Linked DNA regions of Homo sapiens: all the other regions are linked to region 1. Evidence: fine-mapped expression QTL. A gene starts in region 1. Each other region holds a variant in brackets. All regions are shown on one strand. Distances are between the middles of the regions.

The links. PIP is the estimated chance that this variant, and not a neighbour inherited with it, causes the effect. A credible set is the group of variants that fine-mapping cannot tell apart.
Region 2: its variant is the best candidate, but not a certain one, in a credible set for the expression of NOA1 in whole blood (TOPMed, PIP 0.81).
Region 3: its variant is the best candidate, but not a certain one, in a credible set for the expression of NOA1 in whole blood (TOPMed, PIP 0.57).

The regions. Positions count from the first base shown.
Region 1 is chr4:56,976,156-56,978,915 of GRCh38, forward strand. It overlaps NOA1 (nitric oxide associated 1), which reads right to left and starts at 1,451. Exons shown (of 7, transcript NM_032313.4): 1 at 287-1,451. The coding sequence starts at 1,430. POLR2B (RNA polymerase II subunit B) reads left to right here and starts at 2,741. Exons shown (of 25, transcript NM_000938.3): 1 at 2,741-2,760. RefSeq lists enhancers at 684-743, 1,124-1,193 and a silencer at 944-1,023.
Region 2 is chr4:56,999,330-57,002,089 of GRCh38, forward strand. It overlaps POLR2B (RNA polymerase II subunit B), which reads left to right. Exons shown (of 25, transcript NM_000938.3): 7 at 288-452. Among named protein-coding and RNA genes, the nearest start is that of POLR2B, 22 kb to the left of the region's middle. The variant T/G (reference allele first, on the strand shown) is at 1,377.
Region 3 is chr4:56,877,783-56,880,542 of GRCh38, forward strand. No RefSeq gene overlaps it. Among named protein-coding and RNA genes, the nearest start is that of REST, 29 kb to the right of the region's middle. The variant G/A (reference allele first, on the strand shown) is at 1,515.

The sequences.
Region 1 (2,760 bases):
CAGGAACTTTGCTTTGTTCCCTGGTCTATCTCCAGTGCTTAGTGACTGGGAACAGAGACGTGCTCCATAAACACTTCCATTGAAAATTACTACAACACATCCTCAATTTTCCCTAGCAGTAAGCTGACACAGAAGAGAGGTGTGACCAGAGTGGGGAGAGAATTTGTAAAGGGAAGGGTACAGGCAGCCCGCAGTGGACATTAAGGGAGGATGTACTCGGTGCCTCGGCCAGGACCAGACGTCCACCTTGCCAGGAAACGAAGAGGGCGAGCCTCCTAAAACTCACCTGGCCAAGGGGAGATGGTGGCTCTGTCGATGGCCTCGGAGCCCTTGGCAGTGCAGTAATCGGACTCCAGGAGCGTGTTAAAGAGAGTGGATTTGCCGGCGTTGGTGGCGCCCACTAAGTAGACGTCCCCACGGTAGCGCCAGGAGCGCTGAAGGGCAGAGATCAACTCTTCCACTCCATAGCCGGTCTTGGCGCTGATCAGCCGCACGTCCCTGACCACTGTGCGGGACCAGTTCGGCGGATTCGGATTCTCCCCGTCCTGTGGCTCGTCCTTGACGGGGCGCTGTGGCCCTTGGTGGCCAGGGGCCAGCAGGAGCCCGGCGCGGGCACAGTCCTCCCACAGTCGCTCCCGCAGCCTCTGCCGGTAGCCAGGAGCATCCTGGGGCAGGAGGTCCACTTTGTTTCCCAGCACGATCAGCTGCTTGGGGCCCACCAGCGCGGGCAAGTCGGGCAGCAGGGCGTCGGGCAGGTCCAGCAGGTCCACCATGTAGAGCACCAGGGAGGGGCCGGGCCGCCGCAACGCGGCGCTCACCAGCTCCAGGTACTGCTCGCGGCTCACCTGCAGGCGTAGAGCGCGCCGGTGGTGCGACAGCAGCCAGCAGCGCTGGCACACGGTCCGTGCCAGCCCGCCGTCTGCCTCCGCCGTGCGGAGGAACTTCTCTCGGGGCAGGTAGCCGGGCACTCCGGCGTCCTGGCAGTGCAGCTCTGCCCCACAGCCCGAGCAGTTCACGCCGCTGGGCGGCAATGCCGGGTCCGGGTGCCCCACGACCGGGTGCTCCCGGGACCTGGCCCGTAGGTTTTGCTGTCGCCGCTCCTCCCGCCGCTGCTGCCTCTGTCGCTCCTCCTCCTCCTGCTGTTGCTGGAGCTCCTGCAGCTGCTTTTCGCGGGTGGGTTGCGGCTCCGGATCCAGGATGTACTCCGGGAACAGAAAACGCTCCTGCATGTCACCACCTTCTCCAAAGCCCTCCGTGTCCACGGGGTCATAAGGAAGCTCGCGTCCCAGACTCGATGAGTGCTGGAAGGAGGAGGCGGCAGCGCACCTCCTCTCCAGGAGCGGCTCCCGGAGGCCATGGCGCGCTGCCGTGGGAGCGGATCCACGAAGGAAAAGGCTCAGCAGCCTGAACGGTAGGCGAGCGGGCAGCATGAGGAAGTAGCTCCAAAGGGGCGGAGCCACCAGCGCGCACGCGCACTAGGGTCCGAGGCGCGCATTTGACCCGAGACGAAAGCGCGTGGGTACTTGGGAGCTGTCCTGGTTGGTTTTGCGTCTAATCCCGTCAGTTCTCGCGATTTAAGCTCTGAGACTGAGAACCTACTTAAAGCTATGGCAAAGGCACTGGAGGATTGAGCTAGGTGGGCAGAAAAGAGCAGTGAGTGTTTTGGGTTTTTTCACTTTCAGGCTTAACGCCTCACTGCTAGCACAAGCCGCCCTTAATAAATCACACTTAAAAAGGAGCTTCCGGGGTCGGGCGCGGTGGCTCACGCCTGTAATCCCAGCAATTTGGGAGGCCGAGGCGGGCGGATCATGAGGTCAGGAGATCGAGACCATCCTGGCTTACACGGTGAAACCCCCATCTCTGCTAAAAATACAAAAAATTAGCCAGGCGTGGTGGCGGGCGCCTGTAGTCCCAGCTACTCGGGAGGCTGAGGCAGGAGAATGGCTTGAACGCGGGAGGCGGAGGTTGCAGTGAGCCGAGATCGCGCCACTGCACTCCAGCCTGGGCGACAGAGCGAGCCTGTCTCAAAAAAACAAAACAAAACAAAAACAGAAAGGAGCTTCCGGCCGGGCGCGTGGCTCACGCCTGTAATCCCAGCACTTTGGGAGGCCGAGGCGGGTGGATCACCTGAGGTCAGCAGTTCGAGACCAGCCTGGCCAACGTGGTGAAACCCCGTCTCTACTAAAAATACAAAAATTACCCGGGCGTGGTGACCCTTGCCTGTAATCCCAGCTATTTGGGAGGCCGAGGCAGGAGAATCGCTTGAACCCGGGAGACGGAGGTTGCAGTGAGCCGAGATCGCTCCACTGCACTCCAGCCTGGGCGACAGAGCGAGACTCCATTTCAAAAAATAATAAATAAATAAAAATAAAAAATAGCTTCGTGTTTTGGTCCTTATAAAGGCAAATAAATTGAGCATCCCAATGTTGCGGATTCACAGGACGAACACTTTTTAATAATAAGTATACCTGGTTTTGTTTTCAGGTGTCGTTATTTGTGCAACAACATTGAAAAACAAGCAGAAATAAAACATTGACGGAACGGATACGACCGCAGATTGCGGGAGCTGTCCTCTCAATCAGCCCGGCAGCGGCGGCCCACAATTTACGCGTGTGCAACCCTAACCCCGGCCCAAGCTTGACCTACAATTTGCGCAGGCGCAGATCCTAACTTTGGCGTCCCTGTGGGCGGCCTTTGGTGTGAGACGCGTGGTATTCTGGGAACGTCGGAGACGGAAGTTACTTCGTCTTTAGCTCCTGG
Region 2 (2,760 bases), 23 kb after region 1:
GTGATTTCCAAATACAGTATTGGGTAATTCTGAGAGAATCTTGGCATGCAGATAGGAGAGAATGGAAGTTGTCTCAGGTCTAAGTGACCTGAGCCTGTATGTAAAATTAGTATACTTGTTTCGGTGGTTTTGAAAAGCAGTCATAGGAGGTTCCTCACAGTATTGGGAGGCGTGCTTCTTTTGAAATGTGCACAAAGAATATATATATATTAAATAGTTCTCTTGGTGTTTTTATATTGCTGTGAGCTTTTGTATATTCATGTTCTAATGATACTTTATTTTTCTAGGGTGCCAAGAAGAGTGCTATTGGTCAGCGCATTGTGGCAACTCTACCATATATCAAGCAAGAAGTTCCCATCATTATTGTGTTCAGAGCATTAGGTTTTGTGTCCGACAGAGATATTTTAGAACATATTATTTATGATTTTGAAGATCCAGAGATGATGGAAATGGTAATGTGAAAGCAAAATGTATTCACAGAGCTTTATAAGAGATTTAGAGTTACTGATTGTTGCTAACCTTAAAACATAGTAGAAAGCTGTTCTGAAGAGTAATTTAGCTGTCACAAATCTTATGCCATTTACTGTGTAGTGAAAGCTTTCAGCCCTGCCTGGGTCTCTTTTCTGACAGTTTGTTGTAAAATAGACATGAAAACCAGAGGCAGCTGGAGTTAATGACAGCAGCAAGAAGAAACATTGGTAAGGAAGCTCGCAGAAGCACACCAGCTTGGTGCAATTTAGTAAAAAGGGAAAATGAGTAGTTGATACCTGTTGTTTAACTTTTTATTTTGAAATAATTTCAGACTTACAGAAAAGTTACAAAAAGGCCAGTCATGGTGATTCACGCCTATAATCTCAGCACTTTGGGAGGCCAGGGCGGGAGGATCACTTGAGTCCACAAGACCAGTCTGGGCAACACAGGGAGACCTGTCTCTACAAAAAATGCAAAAGGTTAACCAGGCATGGTGGCATGTTCCTGTAGTCCCAGCTACTGCGGAGGCTGAGTTGGGAAGATCGCTTGAGCCCAGGAGGTGGAGGCTGCAGTGAACCCTAATCATGCCTCCCCACTCCAGCCTGGGTGACAGAGTAAGACCTTGTCTCAAAATAAGAAAAGTTGCAAGAATAATATATAAAAGTCTTATATGCTCTTCACCCAAATTCAACAGTTGTTACTTTTGTCACATTTGCTTTATCATTCATTCTTTCTATATATAACACATTTTTTTTCTGGACCATCGGAGAGTAAGTTATAGCCAATAGCCTCTTACTCCTAAAGACTTCAGTGTATATTTCCTAAGAATCAGTACATTCACTTAAATAATCGTAGTATAATCATTTAAATTAGAACATTTTACTTAGATACAATACTGTTTTTTT[T/G]GGGGGGGAGGATAGAGTCTCACTCCGTTGCCTAGGCTGGAGTGCAGTGGCACGATCTCGGCTCACCACAACCTCCGTCTCCCAGGTTCAAGTGATTCTCCTGCCTCAGCCTCCCAAGTAATTGGGACTACAGGCACGTGCCACCACGCCCAGCTAATTTTTGTATTTTTAGTAGAGACGGGGTTTCACTGTGTTGGCCAGGCTGGTCTCAAACCCCTGACCTCAGGTGATCTGCCCACCTCGGCCTCCCAAAGTGATAGGATTACAACAATACTGTTAATGTACAGATCTGACTCAGATTTTTGTCAGTTGTCCTGATAATATTGAAAACTATTAAGTAATAAGATCTGTACATTAATAGTATATAGTAATTCAAGTTTAATCTCTTTTATAGTTCAGAGTTCAATTCAGAATAACGCATTGCATTTTGATTATATGTCTTTTTAGTCTTTTACAATCCTTCCTTGGCCTTATTTTTTTTGGAGACAAGGTCGCGCTTTGTCGCCCAGGCTGGAGTGCAGTGGCACAATCTCAGCTCTGCCTCCTGGGTTCAAGCGATTCTCCTGCCTCAGCCTTGTGAGTAGCTGGGATTACAGGCACGTGCCACCACACCTGGCTAATTTTTGTAGTTTTAGTAGAGACAGGGTTTCACTGTGTTGGCCAAACTGGTCACAAACTCCTGATCTCAAGTGAGGGGCAGCCTGCGTAGGCCTCCCAAGTGCTGGGATTACAGGCATGAGCCAGCGTGCCTGGCCTCCTCGGCCTTTCTTTGTCTTTCATAACAAAGTATATAGAGGACAGGCCATTTATTTTGTAGAATTGTCCTCAGTTGTGTTTTTCACATATTTCCCCATGATTAGATTCAATTTATGCACTTTTTTGGCAGAAAAAATACTTAAGTAATATTATATGCTTCCCAGGGCATCTCAACAAGAGTCATGTGATGTCATTTTGCCCCATTAATGGTACTGTTAACTTTGATCGCTTCACAGTGGTGTCTGTTAGGTACCTCCACTGTAAGGTTACTATTTTTGTGGGAACCTTTTATGGGAAGGATTTTTGAGGTTAAATGTCCAGTTCCTTATAAATTTTTTCCATTGATGCTCCTTATCTGAACAGTAAATGATATTCTTAAAATTGTCTTAAATTGTCCAGAGCGCTTAAGACTACAGAGAAATCTTTGTCACAGATTTTGCAGGCTAAATCTTTGTCACAAAGTTAGAACAGGGAGTATATTTTAGTTATTTGAATATTTGTTGGTGTGGTTACATGAGAAAATTGGGTTCTGGTTAGATTTTACTTTCAGATTTTGCCAGTAGTTACATACCTTATTATTATTTGAGAAAGGGTCTCGCTCTGTCACCCAGGCTGGAGTGCAGTGGTG
Region 3 (2,760 bases), 98 kb before region 1:
CCTCTCAAGTGGCTGGGACTACAGGCACATGCCACTATGCCTGGCTAATTTTTTGTATTTTTAGGAGAGATGGGGTTTCACCATGTTGGCCAAGCTGCTCTGGAACTCCTGGCTTCAACTCCCCCTTGGCCTCCCAAAGTGCTGGGATCACAGGCATGAGCCATCACACCCAGCCTCTACTCCCTACTTCTATGAGATCAACTACCCCCACCCCCGCGATGGAGTCTCACTCTGTCGCCCAGGCTGGAGTGCAGCGGCATGATCTCGGCTCACTGCAACCTCTGCCTCCCGGGTTTAAGTGATTCTCCTGCCTCAGCCTCCTGAGTAGCTGGGACTACAAGCTCACACCACCACGCCCAGCTATTTTTTGTATTTTTAGTAGAGACAGGGTTTCACCATTTTGGCCAAACTGGTCTCGAACTCCTGACCTCGTGATCCACCCGCCTCAACCTCCCAAAGTGGTGGGATTACAGGCATGAGCCACTGTGCCCAGCCCGAGATCAACTTTTTTGGCTTCCATGTATGAGTGAGAACATAGGGTATTTATTTTTCTGTGACTGGCTTATTTCATTTAAGTCCATTTTATTTCGACTTTCAGTTCAAGATGACCTTAAACTTGCTAGCAGACAAATTTTCAGTGATTATTCTCTAATGGATGGCACCTGACTACAGGCCAAATAAGTCAGGGAAAATATCAAGTAGGAATCTCTAAACATTCTTAAAGGGTCACCCCACCCCTCCCTACAGATACTGCTCTGCATTTGAGGCTTATGGATGGATTTCCTCCACAAAGTCACTGTTGCCTCTCCTGTAGGCCTATTCTGACCCAGCCTGCATTAAGCACCCCTTTCATGGGTCTCCTCAGATGTCATGCATTCTTTTCCCCCCAGCACTTCTAGAGATGCGTTTTCATCTTCCCACTGACTTATCAGTCTGTACTCTCCACTAAATTGTGAGCTTCTTTTTATCCCTAAGGCCTAGCAGGGAATTAGTCATGTGTCCACAAATATTTATTTGAATGGCTATTCTGTGCCAGGCACTGTGCTAGGTGCTGGAGTTGTAATGGTGACCAAAACAGCAAATACTGACATTATGGGATTTACAGTCTGTTAGGGGAATCAGTCATTAAAATAATACACAAATAACTAATTAATTAAGATGGTGCTTAGGGCCACTTAATCCAAGTACTGGGGGCTAACAGAGCATATATAGCTTTAGCAGGACTTGGTTGAGTTCAGATGAATGCTTCCTGGAGGATATGACATTTAAGCTGATTTCTGAAAAATGAAAGCAAGTTGCCCAAGCAAAGTGTGTCTGTGGTGAAATGGGGATAGGTGGGGTGCTGAGACCCAGAAGAACCCTTCAAGTAGTTGGAACAGCACACAGAAGGAGGCTGAAGCTGGAAGTGGTCAGTGTGGCTGAGCTGCTAAGAGAGGTCAAGATCAGGCAGTTCCTCATAGGCTTGTTAAGCAGTTCAAACATTGCTTTAAAAGAAATGTGGGCCTGCCAGGTGC[G/A]GTGGCTCACGCCTGTAACCCCAGCACTATGGGAGGCCAGGTGGGCAGATCATGAGGTCAGGAGTTCAAGACCAGCCTGGACAACATAGTGAAACCCCCATCTCTACTAAAAATACAAAAGTTAGGTGGGTGTGGTGGCACGCGCCTGTAGTTCCAGCTGCTTGGGAAGCTGAGGCTGAAGAATCGCTTGAACCTGGGAGGTGGAGGTTGCAGTGAGCCAAGACCGTGCCATTGCACTCTAGCCTGGGCAACAGAGCGAGACTCCATCTCAAAAAAAAAGAAAAAAAGAAAAGAAATGTGGACCGGGCGTGGTGGCTCATGCCTGCAATCCCAGCACTTTGGGAGGCCGAGGTGGGCGGATCACCTGAGGTCAGGAGTTCGAGACCAGCCTGGCTATCATGGTGAAAACCCGTTTCTACTAAAAATACAAAAAATTAGCAAGGCGTGATGGTGGCGTGTGCCTGTAATCCCAGCTACTCGGGAGGCTGAGGCAGGAGAATCACTGGAATGCAGGAGGTGGAGGTTGCAGTGAGCCGAGCTCGTGCCGTTGCACTCCAGCTTGGGCAACAAGAGTGAAGCTCTGTCTCAAAAAAAAAAAAAAAAAAGAAAGAAAGAAAGAAATGTGAAAGCACTGAGGAGATTTTAGCAGCGAATGATGTGATCAGATGATGAGATTTGGATTTCTGAAAGTTGATCTTTCTTAGGCTGCTAGAAGAAGAATGGAATGTAGAGAAGCAGGAATGGGCAAAGGGAGATTAGCTAAGGCAAGAGATAATGGTGGCTTCATGAGTGTATGTGGAGTGAATGAGAACCAAAGTGTAGGATGCAAGGCCTGGAAAGTCCCCAGAAATCCCATCTCAGTTAACTAGGAAACTGAGTCCCAGAGTGGAACCATAAATGACTCAGTGCATTACAGTTCATTCACAGCACAGTTAGGACTACAAACCAGTCGTGCACTTTGTGTCTTTTCCTCTTTTTTCGTGGACCTTCCCATGTGACTCAGCTAGTTTTTGAATTAAAAAAAAAAGCAGTGCTTTACCAAGTGATGGATATATAAAGTTCACTACACTATTCTCTCTACGTTGATATGTTTGAAAATGTCAATAGTAATCAGGTTTATAAGAAGCAACACTTTAAAACTGTTGTGGCATAGGTGCTAACTCAAGGCCTTCCAAACAGTTTGGGAAAGGAAAGAGGTCCAGGGCTTCTTGGCACTCACATCCTTACATGGCACTCAATAATCTGC